3 separate regions of the Homo sapiens genome follow, and all the other regions are linked to region 1. The links come from fine-mapping of genetic effects on gene expression. A gene starts in region 1. Each other region holds a variant in brackets. All regions are shown on one strand. Distances are from middle to middle. Region 1 holds the start of PRPF31 (pre-mRNA processing factor 31). Region 2 holds the start of LOC102724273 (a long non-coding RNA gene). Region 3 has its middle 34 kb from the start of VSTM1.

Evidence for each region. PIP is the estimated chance that this variant, and not a neighbour inherited with it, causes the effect.
Region 2: its variant is fine-mapped to the expression of PRPF31 in lung (GTEx, PIP 0.95).
Region 3: its variant is fine-mapped to the expression of PRPF31 in thyroid (GTEx, PIP 0.96).

What each region holds. Positions count from the first base shown.
Region 1 is chr19:54,111,887-54,120,060 of GRCh38, forward strand. PRPF31 (pre-mRNA processing factor 31) reads left to right here and starts at 3,868. Exons shown (of 14, transcript NM_015629.4): 1 at 3,868-3,911; 2 at 6,385-6,569; 3 at 6,687-6,747. The coding sequence starts at 6,393. TFPT (TCF3 fusion partner) reads right to left here and starts at 3,771. Exons shown (of 6, transcript NM_013342.4): 1 at 3,361-3,771; 2 at 2,556-2,814. The coding sequence starts at 3,383. PRPF31-AS1 (PRPF31 antisense RNA 1) reads right to left here. Exons shown (of 4, transcript NR_186329.1): 4 at 7,624-8,174. RefSeq lists an enhancer at 2,057-2,930.
Region 2 is chr19:54,150,015-54,158,188 of GRCh38, forward strand. CNOT3 (CCR4-NOT transcription complex subunit 3) reads left to right here. Exons shown (of 18, transcript NM_014516.4): 14 at 2,212-2,311; 15 at 2,414-2,612; 16 at 2,853-2,985; 17 at 3,701-3,826; 18 at 5,295-5,667. The coding sequence ends at 5,393. It overlaps LENG1 (leukocyte receptor cluster member 1), which reads right to left. Exons shown (of 4, transcript NM_024316.3): 3 at 6,749-7,011; 4 at 5,147-5,926. The coding sequence ends at 5,707. LOC102724273 (a long non-coding RNA gene) reads right to left here and starts at 2,213. Exons shown (of 4, transcript XR_001754001.3): 1 at 1,700-2,213; 2 at 1-664. The variant C/T (reference allele first, on the strand shown) is at 4,126.
Region 3 is chr19:54,025,651-54,033,824 of GRCh38, forward strand. No RefSeq gene overlaps it. Among named protein-coding and RNA genes, the nearest start is that of VSTM1, 34 kb to the right of the region's middle. The variant AT/A (reference allele first, on the strand shown) is at 3,164.

The sequences.
Region 1 (8,174 bases):
GGAGAATCGCTTGAACCCAGGAGGCGGAGGTTGCAGTGAGCTGAGATTGCAGCATTGCACTCCAGCCTGGACAACAAGAGCGAAAATCCATCTAAAAAAAAAGAGTTCAAGTTTTGGCTCTGGCTTGGCACAGTGGCTCATGCCTATAATCCCAGCACTTTGAGAGGCCAGGAGTTCGACACCAGCCTGGGCAACAGAGTGAGACCCCAACACTCAAAAACTAACCAAAAAAATTAGCTGGGCTTGGTGGCTGTAGTCCCAGCTCCTTCGGAGGCTGAGATTGCTAGAGTCCAGGATGTTGGGGCTGCAGTGAGCCACAGTCATGCCACTGCACTCCAGCCTGGGCAACAGAGAAAGACCCTGTCTCAAAAAAAAAAAAAAAATCTCAGATCTGCCACTGCTGAGCTCTGAGCTTGGGTGCATTACTTAACCTCTCTGAGCCTTGATTTTCTATACTTGTAAAATAGTAGTAATCTATTCCTGGGGGTGGATTAATGGCAGAGGCTCCAGTTGAGTCCGTTTGGGCCTTGGTGTCTGTCTGTTAAACAGGGTTTGGAATATGCCCCTGGCCTCTAGCCTTCCTCCTTACAGAACTCCCCAATACTGTCATTAAGAATTGAGGCCAGATGTGGTGGCTCATGCCTGTAATCCTAGCATTTTGGGAGGTCAAGGCGAGTGGATCACTTGAGGTCAGGAGTTCAAGACCAGCCTGGGCAACATGGCAAAACCCCATCTCTACAAAAAGTACAAAAATTAGCCAGGTGTGGTGGTGTGTGCCTGTAGTCCCAGCTATTTTGGGGGCTGAGGCAGGAGGACTGCTTGAACCTGGGAGACTGAGGCTGCAATGAGCTGAGATTGCGCCACTGCACTCCAGCTTTGGTGACAAAGTGAGAACCTGTCTCAAGAAAGAGAAAAAGAGTTGAAGGCCAGGCGTGGTGGCTCAAGCCTGTAATCCCAGCACCTTGGGAGGCTGAGGTGGGCAGATCACCTGAGGTCAGGAGTTTGAGACCAGCCTGACCAACATGGTGAAACCCTGTCTCTACTAAAAATAGAAAAATTAGCTGGGTGTGGTGGCGGGCGCCTGTAATCCCAGCTACTAGGGAGGCTGAGTCAGGAGAATCACTTGAACCCAGGAGGTGGAGGTTACAGTGAGCTGAGATGGTGCCATTGCACTCCAGCCTGGGAGACAAGAGCGAGACTCCACCTCAAAAAAAAAAAAAAAAAAAAAAAAAAAAGTTGAATTATTTCCCCCAAAAGAGGGTGTTGAGGCTTTAACCCCCAGTACCTCAGGATCACCTTATATGGAGACAGTGTCGTTACAAAAGTAATCAAGTTCAAATGAAGCCAGTGGGTGGGCCCTAATCCAGTATGACTGGAGTCCTTATAAAAAGGGTAAATTGGGACACAGACACACACACAGGGAGCAGCAATGTGAAGATGAAGGCGGAGATCAGGGTGATGTTTGTACGTGCCAATGACTGCCAGAAACCTCCAGAAGCCAGGGGAGAGGCCTGGAAGATTCTCACAACCCTGTCGACACCTTGCCTTGGATGTCTAGCCTCCAGAACTGTCAGACAGGAATTTCTGTGCTTGAGGGACCCTATTTGTGATAAGTTCTGGGAGTCCAAGCAGACTAATACAACTGTCTTCAGAGTTTCAGGCATCCAGACCTGATGCTGTTCCTCCCCCATTTGAAACCCTTCAGTGGCTCCTTCACTCTCAAGGAAAAAAAAATATCCAGACTTCTTGTCCTGGTGTTCCTGGCCTGCCAAGATCTGAGCCCTGCCTGCTGTTTAATCCTCATTGATTGATTGATTGATTTTGAGACGGAGTCTCACTCTGTCACCCAGGCTGGAGTACAGCAGCATGATCTTGGCTCACTGCAACCTCCGCCTTCCGGGTTCAAGCAATTCTCATGCCTCAGCCTCCCTAGTAGCTGCGACTACAGGTGCGCACCACCACACCTGGCTAATTTTTTTGTATTTTAGTAGAGATGGGGTTTCACCATGTTGGCCAGGCTGGTCTCGAACTCCTAACCTCAGGTGATCCGCCTGCCTCAGCCTCCCAGTGCTAGGATTACAAGCGTGAGCCACCATGCCCAGCCCATCCTTATTCTCAGCAAGGAGGCTATTGCAGTCATTCAGCCCAGACAGCTGGAGTTTGCAATGGCAGCCATAGGGATGGAGGAGAGGAGAAGGGTCCAGAGACACTCAAGAGGCGGAATGAATGAGTCGAGAGGAGTGAATCCTGGCAGGGGTATGGGAGATGTGAAGAGCTTGGGCTTTCACCTGTGAGCGGTGCCACGCATTGAGAGGCCCCCGGGAGACATCAGAGAACCCATCTGCGTTGTCAGGGAAGCTCCACGGGAGATGGCCCTTCCAGGGGCCCGGCACAGGGCCAGACACATAATGCATGCTAAATGACTGAATATATAAGCTAAATGACTGAATATATCAGCAAGCCAAGAAAGGCTGGGCATGTGGAAAGGCAGAGATTGCGGGGGGCGGTAGTTTAGGCCAGGGGACCCCAAAACCGGGGGATCCGCACTCACCTACCTGCTCGATCTCCCGGCAGCGCCGACCTAGTGCCTGGTACTTTCTGCGATTTAATTCCCGCTGGCGCCGCCGCCGACCCCGGGCTGCCTCTTCCTCTTCATCTCGCTCCCGGAGCCCTGAGCCGCCCAGACCACCTGACACAAACTCCACTTCCGTCTCCAGCTCGCTCTCCAGGATGTGGCCACCAAATAGGGGAGGCAACGCCAACTCTGAGCCTGGCGGCGCTGAGAACTCCTCAAAGCCCACGGCTGCCATGGTCCTGAGAGGCAGGGAAAGGCTCAGGGGCCCTGGATCCTGGACCCCCAGCCCCTTCTCCCACTGAACCAGGAGCCCAGACCCCAACCCCTCCTCCCTGAGATCCTAGAATCCAGGCCCCCAGCCCCTCCTCCCTCAGACCGTAGAATCCAGCTCCCAGCCCTCCTCCCTCAGACCCAGAAGTCCAAGTCCGCAACCCACCCTTCGCAGCACCCACAGGGTTCAAGCCCTGACCCCCTCCTCCCAGGATGCAAGAGTCCAGACCTCCAGACTTTTTCTCTCCAAGGACCCAGGGAGTCCAAGCCCCAACCCTCAACCAGACGCAAGAGTCCTGGCTTCCAACCTCCTAGTCTGTCAGATCCAGCAGTCCAAACCCCTAACCTTCTCCTCCCTCAGGATGACCCCAGTCCATAAAAGGGTTCTAAGGTAAAGCAGTTGCATGAACTACAACCCCCATCAGACCTCAGCGTAAAAGCTCATATGGTTGCACACAATGCAGCTGCACTGTTTTCTGGGATTCGCACTTTTTCACAAGGGCTCAGCCACATACCCTTCTCTCTGCTCCAATTCCATCTCCGCGACCTCCGGAAGCCCCGGGCCTCAGAGCTTCCGACCTCTTCAATCTGTAGGTTAAGCCGTTCGCAAAACTACTTGTCCCATCAGGCTCAGCAGCCGAGGACGGCGGGACGTGGCCCTAGGCCTTGTGGGAGTTGTAGTTTCCTGTTTCCGGCTTCGCTTCGGCCCACCCCCACGTCCACCCCGAATCCCTGCTTAAAGGCCTTGCTTTCTTGTCTAACGCCGCAACCAGTCCTCTGAGTTGCCAACGTCTTTCTTCTTGTCTCGACGCCCCGTCGTCCGGCCACAGCGATTCTCTGCTTAGCAGGATCGGTCCACAGCGGGACGTGAGTCCCTTTCCTCCTCGCGGCTTACCGCCTCTCTCCGCCTAGTGCCAGGTGCTAATAAAGTTGTTGTTTCAAATGCGGCCAGGAACATCGCGAGCGGGGACCAATCAGAGAGTAGCTTTGCCTCTATAACGGCGCGAGAGTGAGACGTCATCGGTGAGCGACTAACGCTAGAAACAGTGGTGCGCGGAGAGGAGAGGTGAGTGTGATGGGGACCACGGGGAGCGGGAGGCTGGGCTCCTGGGTCTGGGAGAAGAAGTGTGTGAGGAAAAAGGCGGGTCTTTACAGCTTGGTTTTTGTTTTTTTGTTGTTTGTTTGTTTTGAGACGGAGTCTCGTTCTGTTGCCCAGGTTGGAGAGCAGTGGCGCGATCTCGGCTCATTGCAACCTCCGTCTCCCGGGTTCAAACGATTCTTCTGCCTCAGCCTCCAGAGTAGCTGGGATTACAGGCGCCCGCCACCACCCCTGACTAATTTTTGTATTTTTAGTAGAGACGGGGTTTCCCCATGTTGGTCAGGCTGGTCTCGAACTCCTGATCTCGTGATCCGCCCGCCTCGGCCTCCCAAAGTGCTGTGATTACAGGCATGATCCACCGCGCCTGGCCAGTTGTTTGTTTGTTTTGTCTGAGACGGAGTTTCGCTCTTGTTGCCCAGGCTGGAGTGCAGTGGCGCGATCTCGGTTCACTGCAACCTCCGCCTCCCGGATTCAAGCGATTCTCCTGCCTCAGCCTCCCGAGTAGCTGGGATTACAGGCGCGCACCACCACGCCCGGCTAGTTTTTTGTATTTTTAGTAGAGACGGGGTTTCACTATGTTGGCCAGGCTGGTCTCCAACTCCTGACCTCAGATGATCCACCCGCCTGGGCCTCCCAAAGTGCTGGGATTACAGGCATGAGCCACCGCTCCCGGCCTTTTACAGCCTGTTTACCCAAAAGTCTTAATATGCGCCTACCATGGTGTGGCCCTGGGGATGTGGAAGGAGCAAAAATTGTTCGCTACCCTCTTAGAGCTTTGGTTGATGCCTGGCAGACAGGCTTTATCAAATAATTACTTCATTAATCACAAATGTGTGAAGTGCCTTACTGTAGACACGCAGAGCGTGCGGGACACGTTATCACAAAGCAACCTCCTGTAGTCTAGAGTGGGGCGTGTGGGTCAGGGAGGTGGAACGTGAGAGCTGAAGGCTGAGGAGATGCTGGGCTACTAAGAAGTGAGGAGAGCCAGACGCCATGGCTCACTCCTGTAATCCCAGCACTTTGGGTGGCCCAGGCGAAAGGATCGCTTGAGCCCAGGAGTTTGAGACCAGCCTGAGCAACACAGTGAGACCCTGTCTCTACAGAAAAATTTAAAAATTAGCCGGGCGTGCTGGTGCGTGCCTGTCATCTCAGCTATCGGGAGGCTGAGGCGGGAGAATCGCTTGAGCCCAGGTGATCGAGGCTGCCGTGAGCTATGATGGCGCCACTGCACTGCAGCCTAGGTGACAGAGCAAGACATGGTCTCAAAAAAAAGAAAAGAAAAGAAAAAACAAAGTGAAGGAAAGGGCCACTTTAGTTACAAGGGACTCCTGTACAAAGACCTGGAGGCGGGAAGAGACCGATAATGTAACCAACTCAAGTTTCTGCTACTCAGAGGCAGAGGAAGTGGGGGGTGGTGAAAGTAAAGCAGCTTTACTGATCAAATGCTCGCAGATGAGAAATGGCCAAGCTAATGTCTTTAGAAGACCATTTCAAGCTTTAGGCTGGGGAGAGGGGCTTAAAAAGGGGAACTTTGAATGGGAGGCATACAGGAGTGGTGCTGGGTACAAGGTATGTGTGTCTTGCTCCGAAGGCTGTCTTGAGTCACGGGCCACCTGGAGCATGGGCTGGTGTCAAGTCAACAATGGCCACGTTGTAGATTGATCGCCTTGAGGTGATCTCTGGAGTTTTGCAGCTGGGTTTCCATACCTAGTTTGTTTCAAGATTAGCCCCTGCGGCGAGGCGCGGTGGCTTACGCCTGTAATCCCAACAGTTTGGGAGGCCAAGGTGGGTCGCTCACTTGAGGTCAAGAGTTCAAGACCAGCCTGGCTTACATAGTGAAACCTTGACTCTACAAAAAAAAAAAAAAAAAATTAGCTGGGCATGGTGGCAGGTGCCTGTAGTCCCAGCTACTCAGGAGGCTGAGGCAGGAGAATCGCTTGAACCCAGGAGGTGGAGGTTGCAAGTGAGCCAAGACTGCGCCACTGCACTCCAACCTGGGTGTCAGAGCCAGACTCCATCTTTAAAAAATAAATAAATAAAGATTAGCCCCTGGAACTTCTAAGTAAGCACATAGATAAGCCAGCAGTGCAAGACAGTATCTAGTGGGAAAGGAGGGAAACAAAGAATTTCAAAGTATGTTTTCAAGGCTAAAGGCAAGAAAGGAATAAGAAAGTTTGCAAATGCATTTGGAATCTACACCACTTGGTTCCAGTAAGTCTTAGCAAGGTGGCGGTCATAGGGGTGTGCTGCGTCTTGCACAGGTCGGAGCTGGAGACTCGCCAGTGAACAAAACAAACTAAAGCACCTGTTGTCGTGGAGCCTGCATGCTAGTGGGGTTGATAAAGAAGGACCAGGGTCTTCTGGGGGAGAATCATCGCTCAGTAATAAGGAGGGACTTTGTCGGGGCAAGTTTTTAGGGAACGCTGCTGTCCCTCCCCAGGCCTCGGGATGTCTCTGGCAGATGAGCTCTTAGCTGATCTCGAAGAGGCAGCAGAAGAGGAGGAAGGAGGAAGCTATGGGGAGGAAGAAGAGGAGCCAGCGATCGAGGATGTGCAGGAGGAGACACAGCTGGATCTTTCCGGGGATTCAGTCAAGACCATCGCCAAGCTATGGGATAGTAAGATGGTAAGAGGACAAGAGGTGTTCCTAGCAGGGGGCTCTAGACAGAATCTCCCAGAAGGGGGTGATACAGGCTTCTTTTTGAAGAGTGCTGGATTCTGACTGTCTTCTCCTTTCCTACAGTTTGCTGAGATTATGATGAAGATTGAGGAGTATATCAGCAAGCAAGCCAAAGCTTCAGAAGGTGCTTCCTCCCACTCTGTGCCCCTCCCCATCTCCTGTCTCTCCTGCCAGGCCCCCTGGCTCCCTGGCTGCTTGTGGCTGGGTATATCTCCTTCTCAGCCTTTTCCAGAGCCTTCTTTTTTTTTTGTTTCACCCCAACCCGTTCCCTTTTCCACTAAATATATATTGCATTGTAAAGCTCATGCTTCTTAAGTCCTTCCTGTGTGCTGAGCTTACTGATCATGATAGGACTCAGCTTGAGGTTTCCCAGACTTCACTGATTCACATGACCGGTTACAGGGTTTTTGCCACATCTATAAGCCGCTTATCCTATTATTTGCTTAACATATTCTTTGAGTCTAGGACTTTTTTTCTTAAATTTATCTGAGAAGGAAGCAAATTGCTACCATGAATGGAAAACTGGTATCATTTGGCAAAGACAAAGTCACTGTATAAAAATAGATATATAATTATTTAGGAACCACCTAAGGCCGGGCGCCGTGGCTCACGCCTGTAATCCCAGCACTTTGGGAGGCGGAGGCAGGTGGATCATGAGTTCAGGAGATCGAGACCATCCTGGCTAACACGGTGACACCCCGTCTCTACTAAAAATACAAAAAATTAGCCAGGCGTGGTGGCGGGTGCCTGTAGTCCCAGCTACTCAGGAGGCTGAGGCGGGAGAATGGCGTGAACCTGGGAGGCGGAGCTTGCAGTGAGCCGAGATCGTGCCACTGCACTCCAGCCTGGGCGACAGAGCAAGACTCCGTCTCAAAAAAAAAAAAAATAACCTAAAACCTTTTCTCATGCCCAAATTGAGAGAACACTAGCTTATCTCATGAGTGCTCAGACTCACTCTTAAGAGGGCAGTCCTGTTACCATTCCTATTCTTTTTTTTTTTTCCTTGAGATAGAGTCTCCCTCTGTCGCCCAGGCTGGAGTGCAGTGATGTGTTCTTGGCTCATTGCAACCTCCACCTCCCGGGTTCAAGCGATTCTCCTCCCTCAGCCTTATGTATAGCTGGGATTACAGGTATGCAACACCATGCCTGGCTATTTTGTATTTTTTAGTAGAGATGGGGTTTCACCATGTTGACCAGGCTAGTCTCGAACTCCTGACCTCAAGTAATCCGCCCACCTCGGCCTCCCAAAGTGCTGGGATTACAGGCATGAGCCACTACGCCCAGCCTTCCCATTCTTCTTGAATGGAATTTGTTGATGACAGGAAGCCATAGGAGGTTTCTGGGGAAAGAAGTGTAGTGAGAGGGCAGAGTTTCGGGAGACTCACTGCTTGCTTTCTTTAACGTTTACCTGGGCACCCAGTTGAATCGCCCAGGTCTTTGCTCTCAAAGTACTCAAGGTCTAGTGGAAGAGGCAGGCCAGGTTCCAGACAGCTATCAGTGGTGGTACCAAGCTGGGGACACCGGAGCCACAGGAGGGACTGGCTGACCCTG
Region 2 (8,174 bases), 38 kb after region 1:
TTGCACTTGTTGCTTGCTCTCTCTGGGTCTCCATCTTCATCCCCCCCGCAGGCCCTCAGTTTCTGTCCCCGTTTGTCCTCACAAGGCATAGACTGGTGTACTTTCTGCACAAGTAGAAAGACTGGTTGGGTGAATGCAGCCTGGTTCCACCCTTTAGGAAGCTTCCCTGCTGGGGCAGCTGCAGGGAAGGTTGCGGTGGGCCCACCGAGGGGCATCTGACCTGACCTGGGAGACAGGCCCAGGAAGGTCTGAGAGGGGGTGATGTTTAAGCTGAGACCTGGACCAGGCAGGGGGGCTAACAGCTGCAGGAAGGGCTTCAGGAGGTGCTTTAGGAGGAGCATGCATCTGCCTGTGTGCTTAGGAAGCTGGGCAGGATGCAGCAGAGAGGAGAGAGGTGTCCACTCTGCAGGAGACAGTGCCACCAGCTGCAGGGCTGAGATAGTGGGTGTAGCAGGATAGGACGGTGGGGTCCTGATCATCGAGGGTCAGGAGCTGGGGCTTGGCTTGTGAGCCAGTATACTGTAGCGCAGCTTCCATGGGGGGACCAGTGTGTATGCCCAGGCTGTCCAGGAGGCAGTGTGCGCGCCCAGGCTGTCCAGGAGGCAGTGTGCGCGCCCAGGCTGTCCAGGTCCAAGTCTTGGCATTGTCCTTTCTGTGCCTTCATCTGGGAAACGGCAATAGTCACGATTATACCTACTATGTAGGGTTATTTGGAAGACTAAATCATCCTCATAAAGCTCTTGGAACAGTTTCTGGCCCAACAGAAGCATTAATTTTTTTTTTTTTTCTTTTTTGAGACAGAGTCTTGCTCTGTCACCCAGGCTGGAGTGCAGTGGTGCAATCTCAGCTGAATGCAACATCCGCCTCCTGGGTTCAAGCGATTCTCCTGCCGCAGCCTACTGAGTAGCTGGGATTACAGGCGCCTGCCACCACGCCAGGCTAATTTTTATATTTTTAATAGAGATGGGGTTTTGCCATGTTGGTCAGGCAGGTCTTGAACTCCGAACCTCAGGTGATCCACCCACCTTGACCTCCCAAAGTGCTGGGATTACAGGTGTGAGCCACCGTGCCCGGCCCAAATTTTAGAAGTAGGTGGACAGGATATTTATAGTGCGTGCATTTTTCTGGAAAAAGGGAAACAGCAGCTTTGAGATTTTCAGAAGGGGTCCATATCTTTTAACACCACCAACAACAAAAATGAATCGCTGGGGTGGGTGGTCGGGAACCATGGCAAGGTTTGGAGTAGAGAAGGAACAACATGACTTCATTGGAAAGGTCCCCTGGGGCTGGTGAGGACAGGATAGAGGGAGGGTGGTCTGGGCAGGAGAGGACAGGCCTGGGCTGTGTGGGACATGGTGGCACGACAGGGAAGGGAGCCATCCAGTGGGGTTTAGAAGCAGGACGGATAGCTGGGCGTGGTGGCTCACACCTGTAATCCCAGCTCTTAGGGAGGCAGAGGCGGGAGGATAGCTTGAGCCCAGGAGTTTGAGACCTGCCTGGGCGATATAGCGAGACAGGATGGATAAGCCTTGGCGACTGACTCGTTGTGGAGAGTCCAGCACAGGGCTGGGGTTTGGGACAGCTGCACGTGGCTGGAGGAGATGGGAGGAACCAGCCCTGACTTTGGGGAACAGAAGCCTGCTGTAACCTTTGTAATAGGAAACGAGGCTGTGGCTGCGGGGCTGGAGACCCAACCTACCTGTTTCCAGCAAGGAGACTGAAGCCTAGCCGGGCTGGGCCCACCCCGATTCCAGTCACCCCATGCCAGTCACAGGCAGACAGCTGAGCATGTAGACCTCCTGCCTCCTTCAAGACAGGCGGGAGCTCTCCCAGCGTGTAGGTGTCCCTAGTGAAGGAGCGTGTACTATTGGCACATCCTTTGACAAAAATGGTAGCGCACTGTACATATTCTGCAGGTTGGCGTTTACTTCTGTAGTATGTCACGAACTTGTATTTTGAAAATCTCGGCGTAGTATTCCATGCTGCAGAGTCCCACTCACGAGACGTTCCTCTGCTGATGAATGCGTCGTGGTCTCCGATTGTTTCCCTACAGTTTGATGCTTTTACCTGTCATGGGTAGATTGTGGGGAGTGGGTCGTTGGCCCTCCACGGCCCCCAAACAGGGCAGGTGAGAGCATCTGGGGCCTGTGTCAGGCTGCACTTGCTCCTGCAGCCCAAGTGCTCAGGCCAGGCCTCTTGTTTCCTCCCCAGGCCCCTGAGCCTCTGAGCTCCTTGAAGTCCATGGCGGAACGGGCAGCCATCAGCTCTGGCATTGAGGACCCTGTGCCAACGCTGCACCTGACCGAGCGAGGTGAGGGACCCAGGATGGTGGGGAAGCAGCGGGCCAAAGAGGAGGGGCTGCCCCTGACCCATCCTCACCACTGAGGGGGCCGGACCCCCACCCTCCCCACAGACATCATCCTGAGCAGTACATCAGCACCTCCGGCCTCAGCCCAGCCGCCCCTGCAGCTGTCAGAGGTGAACATACCGCTGTCGCTGGGTGTCTGTCCACTGGGCCCTGTGCCCCTCACCAAGGAGCAGCTCTATCAGCAGGCCATGGAAGAGGCCGCCTGGCACCACATGCCTCACCCCTCTGACTCTGAGCGTATTCGGTGAGGGGCCACAGGGAAGGGGGATGGTCTGGGACTTGAGTCTTACGGAGGAGGCAGTGGCTGAACCTGTGAGGCTGTGGGTAGAGCACCAGGCCCCTGACTTGGGCTCTCCACTGAAGGTCAGCACCGCCCTGGGTCTTTCTGTACCACCTCCCCCCGCAGGGATGCATGTCTGAGCACCCTTTTGATCACGACAGGACTAGTAGGCAGCTGGCACTGACCTTCCTGTTGCTCTCACAGGCAGTACCTCCCCCGGAACCCCTGTCCGACGCCCCCCTACCACCACCAGATGCCACCCCCACACTCGGACACTGTGGAATTCTACCAGCGCCTGTCGACCGAGACACTCTTCTTCATCTTCTACTATCTGGAGGTACAGCAGGGCCCCCGGGGCAGCCTCGGGCCCCCCGGCTTCGCCGCCACCGCCGCCGTCCCCCCTCGGGCTGGAGGGGTGAGGTGGGTGCCCCACTGCGGCCACTGGGACCGCACCCCCTCCCTATTCCCACTCCTGGGCCCCTGCCCCAAATCCACCTGTCCCCGTCCCCGCCTTCCAGCCCAGAGATGTTAGAACTGCTTGGGTTGACAGCGAGGCTGGTCCACTGAGGCACACCTCAGCCCCGCTTCCAGTTGCCCACTGGCTCACCCGCGGCCCCTCCCCAGCCCTGCTCCAGCAGCCCCAGTCTAGGCCGACCCCACTCTGCTCATTGGCACATTCTCAGGCCTCCCTGGAGACCACTGGGGAGCTGTCCAGCCCCCTCCCAACCCCAGTGAGTCATGAGTGACCTCCACCCTCATCCCCACTTGGGAAATTTTCTAAATTGCCTCCTCTCTCAGCTCTCATCACACATTAGTTTTTCTTCCTTCTCAAAGCTTCTCTGAAAGCAATTTTCACCTCCTGTCTCATTTTCCTTCTCCTGATCAGCATTGGTATGTTCTGTGCCCCCAGCCCCATCTCCAAGAGGATTGTCCAGCCCAACTGTGGTCTGTGGCGGGGGCCGGGGTTCAGCCCTGATGTCCTGCCCCATTCCCCTGGCTCCCCACCCAGTTTGGGGGCCCCCTGATCCCCCTCTCCACTGTTCCTCCCCCAGGGCACTAAGGCACAGTATCTGGCAGCCAAGGCCCTAAAGAAGCAGTCATGGCGATTCCACACCAAGTACATGATGTGGTTCCAGAGGCACGAGGAGCCCAAGACCATCACTGACGAGTTTGAGCAGGTGAGGGCCCCGCCCCCTCTCTTCCCGCTGCTAGGGTTGGGGTAGAGTCCCCAGGCTCCAGGCAGCCCCTGCTGGCCTCTGCTCCCTTGCCTCCACCTTTCAGCTGGCGCAGTCCCTCAGCCTGACCAAGTACTCCTCCCTCTGGCTGTCTGCTCAGCCTGGAACACCGCCCTCTCATCCTCCACTTGGCCAGCTCCTAGGCCTCCTGTAGGTCTCAGCCCAAATGTCCCTTCCTCAAAGAAACCTTCCTGGAGCCACCCAGCCCAGTGCCTCCCCTTTGCAGTGCTGGGCACACTCGC[C/T]TGGGGTGTGGGATTTTCCCAGTATGTGTCCCTGCACCAGGCTGTGGGCTCTGCTGCCGAGGGACCTTGATGGCCCCCACTTCACCTCCAGGTCCCAGCACTCAGCAGGGCAGGGGCTCAGTGCGGAAACTATTTTTTTTGAATGGGCTTCTCAAGTTCTAATACTGGGAAATTCCTGCTGCTTGCAAACACTCTGGAACCAACCTACCTGGGTTTCAGCCCAGTCCAGCTGGGCGACTCTAGGCAAGTCACTCGAACCTCTGTGTCTCAATTAACTTATCTGTAAAAATGGGGGGAAGACCACCTACCTAATGCAGTTGTTATGAAGATTAAATGAGTTAATAACATGTAAGTACTTAATGGTGACTGCTACATAGTCAGTGTCATGGATTTTTTTTTTCAAATTACTTTCAGTTGGTGTGTTCTACAGTGATGTTTTTTTCCACCAAATACTTCCCTGATGCCGAGCCCCTTCATGGGGATGAAGTAGTACAAGGTCCTTGTCCTCAGAGAACTCAGTCCCCTCTCCTGGTTCTCCCAGGTTGCCATCTTTGAAGCACTTAAGACATTCATTTAGAACCTAGGTCCTCTCCCATTGTGTCCTCAGATGTTAACCACAGACTTCCTGTCCTTTCCTGGTTTGGCCCAAAACCATCCTCCAAGTTAGTACATTTCAGGGCATCCAGTCATTCAGAAATTCCCACACCACTTCGTCACCAATAAAATGTCCCTGCAGAGTGCTTGGATTTAGACTCTGAGACTGTTCCATTCTCTAGAACAAGGGTGACAGTACCCACTGCCTCGAGGTCTTTGTGAAGATTAAATGCTAGGCTGTGCATCCTGTACTCACGTGAGAGGTGCTCAAAAGCCACAGCCCTCGAGGAAACGAAGGCTGTGCACTCACACCTGGGGCTGGGGCCCCGTTCTGGCAGCTGGCTTCGGTGGAACCTCTGCGGCCCCCTCCGTTTCCTCCTCGCTGAAGTGGCATGATAACATTTCCTACCCAAGAAGAACCTTGTGAGGATGGATGAGAGTGTGTGCGTGCAGGGCAGCTGGCCCGGTGCCTGACACATCCACAGCCCTAAGAATTGTCCCCTTTGTCTGTTGGTCCGGCCCAGATCCCAGACCACCTCCTCGTCCACTCACTGACCGCCTTCTCCCCCGGCCAGGGCACCTACATCTACTTTGACTACGAGAAGTGGGGCCAGCGGAAGAAGGAAGGCTTCACCTTTGAGTACCGCTACCTGGAGGACCGGGACCTCCAGTGACACCGGCCCCTCCCTCTACCCACCCCCTTCCCCCGCATGCTGATCCCCCTGCCCAGGTGAGGGCCCTGCCCTGGAAGACTGGAGGGAGGCCCCAAGCCACGGGGCATCCCCCTCTCCCAGGAAGCAGGGAGGGGGCCGGGAGGTTTTCCTCTCAGCCCCACCCTGGGGGCCCGGGGGCGAGGGCTGCCCCCTCCTCCCCTCCCCAGTGAGGGACATTTTTTGGTAAACCTATTTTCATTTTGGAAAATATTTATGAATAAATAGTTTTATATGACGGCTGGCAGCAGCGGCCTCTCCTGTACCCCCTCAGGAGTCAGTGAGTAAGGTGAGGGTCCTGCTGGCGGGGGCGCCGGGCCAGCTGGGGGTTGAATTGGGAGTTGTACCGCCGCCGCCGGTCATCCGTCTCGTCTTCTTCCGGCTGACCCTCCTGTAGTGCCCGGCCTTGGACCCGGGCCAGCAGGGCCTCTGCCCGAGACCTCTCAGCTGCTTCCCTCCGCAGACGTTCAGCTCGAAGCTGGTCCAGGGATGGAGGCCTGTGGGGAGAGGAGTGAGGTCAGAAAGCTGGTAGCCCCTAGGAGGCCATTCCCCCAACCTCTCCCATAGAGGGAGCTGCCGCCTGGAAGCCCCGCTGCATCCAGCACACCCCAGCCTCAGCTCCTTAGGCCTGCTGGAAGCAGCCACTTGGTGCTGGGACGCCATGGGCACGTCTCTGGCCTTCCCTTCTGTGGGCTTTGGTCCTCCCCAGTCTTTAAAATCTGATGCTTCTCCAGGTCAAGAAAGCACACTTAGCAGCCCCCTGGCCCTCAGTTTCCCTTTCTAGAGGAAAGAAGACTACAGGCAGTGTACCCCCTCTAGACCAGGGGTGCAGCATCCTGGAGACAGAAGCCTGCTTTTACTCTCTAACCCAGCAGCTCTCAAACTCTTTGGTCTCAGGACCCCTTTATACTCTTAAAAACCAAGGACCCCAAGAGCTTTTGTTTAAATGGGTTCTCTTAATATGCTGCAAATCATTAGTGAAAACTAAGAAAGTTTGGACACAAGCATCTGCCATTGGCCATCAGAGTGAGGGTGTCTCCCCATCACACAGCCTCTGGAAACCTGCACTACATGCCTGAGAACACGAGTGGAAAAGTCCACCAGTGTCAGGAAAATAGGCTTGACACCACAGCACCCCGGGAAAGGGTGTCAGGACCCCTAGGGCTCCCTGGACCACATGCTGAGAACCACTTCTCCACCTAGCCAGCCCTTCACGGAGTCCCTGGCTGTCCTGACCAGAGACGCTGCAGTGCCCATGCTGGGCTGCTGCCAAGCCCTGAAGGTCTGGGCCCTGGTCTGCCGAGGTGGGGTCTTCTTACTCCTTGGGTCGCTGCTTCTCAGACCCCTCCTTTTCCTTTCTGCTGCGACTGCCTTCATCACCGCCGTGCTGTCTCTTCTTCCCCAGATGCTTCTGCATCTCCCGCAGAGGGTCCAGACGGCTCTTGATCTTCTCATCTGGGGCTGGGCCGGGCGGGGGGCCCCCTCGCCCTGGGGGTAGCTGGTACCAAGGGGGTTGAGTCTGTGCCTCCGCTGCACTCTGGCCCAGGTATGTCAGGATGCCCAGAGCTTTCTCTTGCCTCTCCTGAGGGGGCCAGGAAATACAAGAGATGTGATATAATCTTTCAAGGTGTCAGGTGTGTCTCCCTGACACAGGTATCTAAGCGAACAGGTATCTAAGGCTTGTTATGAACCAGTTGGACCAGGTGCTGGGGATGGAAGACAAACAGAGGCAAAGCTCCCCCTGGGGGGACAGTAGCAGGTACAGTAACAGCAGGGGAAGGAGGGGACAAGTGGAGCCACTTGAGTGTTCAGAGGCAGGCATCTTTGCAGAGAGACTTGAAGAGAAGCCTGAAGGGATCAAGCAAAGCAGAGGAGCGATGGGTGGGGTCAGCAAGTCCAGAGACAGCAGATAAATGACAAGAGCTGATGTACCTCTTTTTTTTGAGATGGAGTCTCGCTCTGTTGCCCAGACTCGAGTGCAGTGGCACGATCTCGGCTCACTGCAACCTCTGCTTCCCAGGTTCAAGCAATCCTCCTACCTCAGCCCCCCGAGTAGCTGGGATTACAGGCACACACCACCATGCCCAGCTAATTTTTGTATTTTTAGTAGAGACGGGGTTTTGCCATGTTTGGCCAGGCTGGTCTTGAACTTCTGACCTCAGGTGATCCACCCACGTTGGCCTCCCAAAGTGCTGGGATTACAGGCGTGAGCCACCATGCACAGCCACTGATGTACCTTTTACACTTGATCTTAGCCAAAAAGCAAGAGGCGATTGATTCACTTTTTGTTTGATTGTTTTGAGATGGGGTCTCGCTCTGTCACCCAGGCTGGAGTGCAGTGGCGCAATCTCGGCTTACTGCAGCTTCCACCTCCTGGGTCAAGCGATTCTCCTGCTTCAGCCTCCCTGGGATTACAGGCGCGCACCACCATGCCCGGCTAATTTTTTTTGTATTTTTAGAGATACCATGTTGACCAGGCTGGTCTTGAACTCCTGACCTCAGGTGATCCACCCGCCTCAGCCTCCCAAGGTGGTGGGATTACAGGCGTGAGCCACAGCCGGCTGATTTAAATTTTTAAAAGCCCATCAGGTTTGAGACTCCTCCAGTTTGGAGAACTGAGCGGTTTGCCCAGCAGCTGGGGACCTCTAGCATCTACCTCCAACCCCTGTGGGCGCCCAGACGGCAATAGCCAACGCTTTTTGAGTGTCATGCCTTGGTATGGTCCTAAATTCTGTGTGTTCACTC
Region 3 (8,174 bases), 86 kb before region 1:
GGTGAAGCAATGAGAGTGTTTTTTTCGGGGGAGGAGGTGTCAGATAGATCAAGAATTTATAATTAGCATAAGAAATGTACTTCTTAACAAAGCCAGCCTGGGCAACATAGTGAGATTCCCATCTCTACAAAAAAAAAAAAAAAAAAATTAGCCCAGTGTGGTGGTGCACACCTGTGGCCCCAGCTACTTGGGAGGCTGAGGCAGGAGGATTGCTTGAGCCTGGGAGGTCAAGGCTGCAGTGAGCTATGATTGTGCCACTGCACTCCAGTCTGTGTGACAGTGCAAGACCCTGTCTCAAAAAATAAAAAGAAAAAAAAAGAAACATACTAAAAAAGGACACATATTAGCAATATGAAACAAGAACAATTTTCCATAAAGCAAGAGGCTTATGGAAATAAAAAGTATAAAAATACATGATGGTAAAAAATATATAACATTATCCTCTAACAGAATAGGCAGTAGGGTGGGTGCCGTGGCTCACGCCTGTAATCCCAGCACTTTGAGAGGCTGAGGTGGGATGATCACTTGAGACCAGGAGTTCGAGACCAGTCTGGGCAACATGGTGAGACCGTGTCTCTTTAAAAAAAAAAAAAAAAAAGGCAGAATTGATACAGCTGAAGAAAAATGAACAAGTAAGAAAATGTGGTGGAGGAACTTCTCCAGGAAGCTGATATAATTATATTAAGATCAGAAAAAATAAGAGAAAAGTCATCGTACGATATAAGGGACAGGTGTTTCTCAAAATCCAAAATCTTCTCTGCTAAGAGAATCCTGATTTTGTTTTTGTTTTTGTTTCTTGAGATGCAGTCTTGCTCTGTCGCCCAGGCTAGAGTGCAGTGGTGCAATCTCAGCTCACTGCAAACTCCACCTCCCAGATTCAAGTGATTCTCCTGCCTCAGCCTCCCCAGTAGCTGGATTACAGGTGCTCGCCACCACACCCAGCTAATTTTTGAATTTTTAGTAGAGACGGGGTTTCACCATGTTGGTCAGGCTGGTCTCAAACTCCTGACCTCGTGATTCGCCCACCTCAGCCTCCCAAAGTGCTGGGATTACAGGCCTGAGCCACCGCACCCAGCCGAGAACCCTGATTTTGTTCAGGTGTCAGTTGGCCACCCTTGTTCCTTGGAGACTTGGCCCTTTTCTAGTTTCAGGCATGAATCTTGATTAGTCTAAGGCTTAGTGACGTGCTGGTTGTGAAAGTGTGGTCCCTGAACCAGCAGCGTCAGCATCACCTGGGAGCTCGTCAGAAAGGCAAATTCTTGAGCCCCACCCCAGACCTACTGAATCAGTCAGAAACTCTGAAGGTGAGCTTTTCCTTTCTCCTCCTCTCCAACCTATGGTTTGACAAGTCCTCCAGGTGATTCTGATGCACACTGAAGTTTAAACACCTTTAGCCCAGTTAGGTAAACTCACGCCCACTGCTAGTGGTTATTTAAGGAAGGGGCTGGATGCAATTGTGTTTCTTGAGATGTGAGTGGAAATCTCGTGGGAGGCTTCCTCATGTTGGAGAGGGCCGCGTTGGAAGGGCCTTTCTATGCCCTTCGTCTGCTTTTTATCTCATCCTTTCCAAAAAATTAACTTTTTATTTATTTATTTGAGACAGAGTCTTGCTCTTGTCGCCCAGGCTGGAGTGCAGTGGCGCGATCTCGGCTCACTGCAACCTCCACCTCCTGGGTTCAAGCAATTCTCCTGCCTCAGCCTCCCGAGTAGCTGGGGCTACAGGCACCTGCTACTATGCCCAGCTAATTTTTGTATTTTCCGTAGAGACAGGGCTTCACCATGTTGGCCAGGCTGGTCTCAAACTCCTGACCTCAAGTGATCTGCCCACCTCAGCCTCCCAAAGTGCTGGCATTACAGGAGCGAGCCACCTCACCTGGCTTAACTTTTTATTTTAAAATAGTTCTGGAGGCCAGGTGTGGCAGCTCACGCCTATAATCCCAGCACTTTGGGAGTCTGAGGCAGAAGGATCTCTTGAGCCCAGGTGTTCAAGACCAGCCTGGGCAACATGGCAAAATCCCATCTCTACAAAAAAGTTTTTAAAAATTAGCATTTGCCTGTGCGTCCAGCTTCTCAGGAAGCTGAGGCGGGAGGATCACTTGAGCTTAGGAGGTCAAGGCTGCAGTGAGACACCATACTGGGATTACAGGCGTGAGACACCACTCCAGGTCTGGGTTCTCTTTTTTTTTTTTTTTTTTTTTGAGACAGAGTCTCACTCTTTCGCCCAGGCTGCAATGAAGTGGCACCATCTTGGCTCACAGCAACCTCCACCCCGCAGATTCAAGCGATTCTCCTGCCTCAGCCTCCTGAGCAGCTGGGATTACAGGCGCCCGCCACCAAGCCTGGCTAATTTTTATATTTTAGAGATGCCCAGGCTGGAGTACAGTGGTGCGATCTCAGCTCAACACAACCTCCACCTCCCGGATTCAAGTGATTCTCCTGCCTCAGCCTCCCCATTAGCTGAGATTACAGGCATGCACCACCACGCCCGGCTAATTTTGTATTTTTAGTAGAGACAGGGTTTCTCTGTGTTGGTCAGGTTGGTCTCCAATTCCTGACCTCCGGTGATCTGCCTGCCTCGGCCTCCCAAAGTGCTGGGATTACGGGTGTGAGCCACTGTGCCCGGCTGATCTTACATTTTCTTGTGCACTTATTCATGAGCTTTTTTTTTTTTTATGAAAATGAATTCCTACCATCCATTCTCCTTCCAAACTGCTCATACCCAGTATTCCCAAGGTTTTTGCACATGTATATAACAGAATGTCAAAGTAGATTCATTGCAATCTCAGTTTCTGCTCAGGCCCAAAGATTATAGATGCCAGCGAGGTCAGATCTCACAGTAAGGCCATTTCTGCATGACTTCAGGAGAAAATGCTGAAAACCTAATTTCCCCACACCCTTGGCCTCTTGTCCACCTGAAGGTAAGAAAGGAGTGTTGGGGGGAAGGGGGAGGGATAGCATTAGGAGATATACCTAATGCTAAATGACGAGTTAGTGGGTGCAGCACACCAGCATGGCACATGTATACATATGTAACTAACCTGCACATTGTGCACATGTACCCTAAAACTTAAAGTATAATAATAATAAAATAAAATAAAAATAAATAAATAAATAAAAATTAAAAAAAGAAAAAAAAAAGAAAGGAGTGTTGAGATTAGAAGGT[AT/A]TTTTTTTCCTATTGGGATACAGGTGGTGTTTGGTTGCATGAGTAAGTTCTTTAGTGGTGCTTTGTGAGATTGTGGTGTAGCCATCACCCAAGCAGTATACACTGCACCCCATTTATAGTCTTTTATCCCTCGCCCCCCTCTCACCTTTCCCCCCAAGTCCCCAAAGTCCATTGTATCATTCTTATGCCTTTGCATCCTCATAGTTTAGCTCCCACATATCAGTGAGAACATATGATGTTTGGTTTTCCATTCCTGAGTTACTTCACTTAGAATAATAGTCTCCAGAGATTAGAAGAGTTTTTGTTTTGTTTTGTTTCTGTGTGTTTGTTTACGTAAGCTGTTGGTGTGCTGTGAGTCCCATCCTCTGTCCACCGTAGATGTGTGATGGAGGATGACAGTCTCTTCAACTGGACAATTCAGAGTAGTTATATGGGGTGAGGGGCGGGTCCAGAGAGGAATGGGGTCTGATATGGTTTGGCTTTATGTCCCCACCCAAATCTCATCTTGAATTGTAATCCCCAGGTGTTGGGGGAGGAACCTGGTGGGAGGTGATTGAATCATGGAGGTGGCTTCTACCTTGTTGTTCTCATGATAAAGTGAGTTCTCAGGAGATCTGATGGTTTTATAAGCGTTTGGCAAGTTCCTCCTTTGCTTGCTCTTCTCTCTCTCTTGTTGCCTTGTGAAGAAGATATTTGCTTCTCCTTCCCCTTCTGCCATGACTGTAGTTTCCTGAGGCCACCCTAGCCATGTGGAATTGTAAGTCAATTAAATCTCTTTCTTTTTTTTTTGAGACTGAGCCCCCCTGTCATCCAGGCTGGTGTGCAGTGGTGCAATCTCAGCTCACTGCAACCTCCGCCTCCTGGGTTCAAGCGATTCTCCTGCCTCAGCCTACCGAGTAACTGGGACAACAGGCATGCGCCAATAGCCGGCTAATTTTGTATTTTTAGTAGAGGTGGCGTTCACCATGTTGACCAGGCTAGTCTCGAACTCCTAACCTCAAGTGATCCGCCCACCTCAGCCTCCCAAAGTGCTAAGATTACAGGTGTGAGCCACCACACACGGCCTCGGCTATTTATAGCAGTGTGAGAACGGGCTAACACAGGGTCTTTCCTCACTGGAGAGAGAGGGTGGGAGGAGAGAGAGAGGGTGGGAGGGGAGAGAGGGGAGAGGGGAGAAATGGGGGAGGGGGGGAGAGGGGGGAGAGAGAATGAATATGAGAATGAATGTACCAGGAGCTTTTATCCTTTGCAGGAGCGCCACCTGGAGGTAGGAGGTGAAGTCTGCAGAGAGAAGCTGGAAATGTACTGACGGATCCCCAAGGATTCAGTAATGTGACCAAGTGGAGGAGCTGCATTTACAGGCATCAAGGGAACTGCAGGTGAGAGGTCTGCAGCCTTGCAAGAGAGTGGGGGAAGCAGGAGAAGCTCCACGTGGGGAGATAAAGGAAAAGCTGACCACGCTTCCTCCACGTTGCAGGCAACCTGCCGAAAGGATTTTAATCACTGAGCTGACACTGTATTTTTTTCTTGTATGTGACTTTTTTAAGAAGCAGCTGGAAGTCTTTATGACCTAAGATGACTATAAAAATTATGAGAAGGCCGGGCGCAGTGGCTCACACCTGTAATCCTAGCACTTTGGGAGGCCAAGGTGGGCGGATCACTTAAGGTCAGGAGTTCGAGACCAGCCTGGCCAACATGGCGAAACCCTGTCTCTACTAAAAATACAAAAATTAGCTGGGCGTGGTAGCACATGCTTGTAATCCCAGCTGCTCGGGAGGCTGAGGCAGGAGAATCACTTGAACCTGGGAGGCAGAGGTTGCAGTGAACCATGACTGCACCATAGCACTCCAGGCTGGGCAACAGAGCAAGACTGTCTCAAAAAAAAAAAAAGTTATGAGACTTGCTTTACATGTCACCCAAGGGCACAGGTAAAGAATTAGACCTAGGAGTTGGGTTGATAGGGCAATGGGAAAAAAGAAAAAAATTGTTTACTGAATCAAGGGAATAATCACACCTACATCTTTGCAACTCACGTGCTTACAACTAGGGCAACCAAATTGTTCCGGTTCGCCCAGGATTTTCTCTGGTTTAGCCCTGAAATTTCTGTGTCCTGGGAAATTCCTCATTTCTATTTTAAAACCGAAAGTCCCACATCCTAAGACACACACACACGCCCCTGCACACACCAATCCTGGTAAAACGGTAACAGTTGGTCATACTATCTACAACAACCCTATTCGAGATCTGTGTCTTCACGATGAGGAAAGGCACATGCAGTTCTGGAGATTTTAACACGTGTTCCCAAGGTCACACAACCTGCCCTTGTATCCAGCACTGAAAGCAGATGACTCTCCTCTTTCCACGATTCTAAGCCTCTTCCCGTAGCATGTCCCATGTGGAGGAGAAAAGTTAAGAAAATGAAACTGGCCAAAACTTGCTACTGCATTTGTGATTTTAGAAAGTAAATGATCAGACATTATTAAAATTATCAATGCAAAAAGAAAGTGAGACTGAACAGATTGTTTACCTTAACAAGATCAAGTTAAACTCGTATAGGGCTTATATATAATGCCGCTTAAAAGCTCAAGTTTATGCGGGGCAGTTTTGGTGGAAGAAGCTCAGGCAGTCCCTCTGGTGGTCGTTATAGATCTGGCCGTGGAACTGGTGGATATGAAAACAGAAGGTTCTAAAAACAGCAGAAAAGGGCAACAGTTCTTAGCAGGAGAGACAGTGAGGAAAGCTGCAGGTTACTTGGAGACAGTCATCCCAAATGCATTAGAGGAGGTGTAAAAATCTGCCACAGAAGGAACAATGATCCATAGTCAGAAAAGTTACTGCAGCTTAAGCAGGAAACCCTTCTTGTTCAGGACTGTCATAGCCACAGTTTGCAAAAAGTGCAGCTATTGATTAATGTGATGTAGTGTCAATTAGAGGTACATCCCTGAGGTCTTTAAAACAAAACAAACTCAGCCAGGCACGGTGGCTCACACCTGTAATCCCAGTGCTTTGGGAAGCTGAGGCAGGCAGATCACCTGAGGCTGGGAGATTGAGACCAGCCTGGCTAACATGGTGAAACCCCGTCTCTACGAAAAATACAAAAATTAGCCCGGCATGGTGGTGGGCGCCTGTAATCCCAGCTACTCAGGAGGCTAAGGCAGGAGAATTGCTTGAACCCAGGAGGTGGAGGTTTCAGTGAGCCAAGATCGTGCCACTGCACTCCAGCCTGGGTGACAAGAGTGAAACTCCGTCTCAAAAAATAAATTAAATAAATAAATAATTAGCTGGACGTGGTGGCAGGCACCTGTAATCCCAGCTACTTGGGAGGCTGAGGCAGGAGAATCACTTGAGCCTGGGAGGTGGAGGTTGCAGTGACCAGAGATCGTGCCACTGAACGCCAGCCTGGGCAACAGAGCAAGATTCTGTCTCAAAAACAAAAACAAAAACAAAAAAAGGCTCAAGTTTATGAATGAACTGTTCATATCAGGTGATGGTCTTTCAAAATAATGACTGTTTTGTACCAACTATTGTGCTCATGTGATTGATTGAACAATGCTTCCAAAGAATTTGAAACAATAAGGCAAAGAAACCTAATGTTCATAACAGAAAAAAAAATTAAATGTATAGCACTAGAAAAATTGATTTTTTTTTTTTTGAGACAGGGTCTCACTCTGTCACCCAGGCTGGAGTGCAGTGGTGCAATGATGGCTCACTGCAGCCTCCACCTCCTGGGCTCCAGCGATCCTCCTGCCTCAGCCTCTAGAGTAGCCCGGACTACAAGCATGCACCACCATGCTCAGCTAATTTTTGTATTTTTAGTATAGACAGGGTTTTACCATTTTCCCCAGGCTGGTCTCGAACTCCTATGCTCAAGCAATCAACTTGCCTCAGCCTCCCAAAGTGCTGGGATTACAGGCATGAACCACAGAGCCTGGCATGATACTAGAAAAATTCTTTTTTTTTTTTTGACATTTAAGTTCAGGGGTACATGGGCAGGATGTGCAGGTTTGTTACACGGGTAAACGTGTGTCATGGGGGTTTGTTGTACAGATTATTTTTTTTCTAGTGTATTTACTACTTCCTGATTATCAGATTATTTTATCACCCAGTTATTAAGCCTAGTACCCACTAGTTATTTTTCCTGATCCTCTCTCTGCTACCACCCTCCACCCTCTGACAGGCCCCAGCATGTGTGAAAAATTCTTATAGTCTTCTAGAAAATACAATAGGTAGCCTTTGGAACATAGGGTATCATAAAGAGAAGCTGTAGAAAATATATTTCTTTGAATTTTTTTTTTTTTTTTTTTTTACAAATGATCACTATAATGTTTAAAATATGTTTACCACCTACAGTTGTGTGCTAGGGAAGCCATAACAAAATGCCCCCCACTGGGGGGCTTATGGGACAGAAATGGATTTTCTCACCGTTCTGCAGGCTGGAAATCCAAGATGGAGGTGCCAGTAGGGTCAGTTTCTCCCGGGGTCTCTCTGCTTTGTATGCAGATGGCCGCCTTCTTGCTGTGTCTCCACGTGGTCTTTCCTCTGGATGTACATATCCTGGTGTCCTTTTCTTTTTTTTTTTTTTGAGTTGGAGTCTTACTCTGTTGCCCAGCTGGAGTGCAATGACACGATCTCAGCTCACTGCAGCCTCTGCCTCCTGGATTCAAGCGATTCCCCTGCCTCAGCCTATCGAGTAGCTGGGATTACAGGCGTGCACCACCGCGCCCAGCTAATTTTTGTATTTTTAGTAGACATGGGGTTTGGCCATGTTGGCCAGGCTGGTCTTGAACTCCTGACCTCAGGCGATCCGCCCACCTGGGCTTCCCAAAGTGCTGAAATTACAGGCGTGAGCCACCACACGTAGCCCCTAGTGTCTTTTTTATGTCCAAATTTCCTTTTTTCACAACGGCCTCTTGTCTCTAAATACAGTCACATTCTGAGTTACTGGGAGTTAGGATTCAGCACACGAATTTTGAGGAGATGTAATTCAGCCCATAATTAAGCCCTATCCTC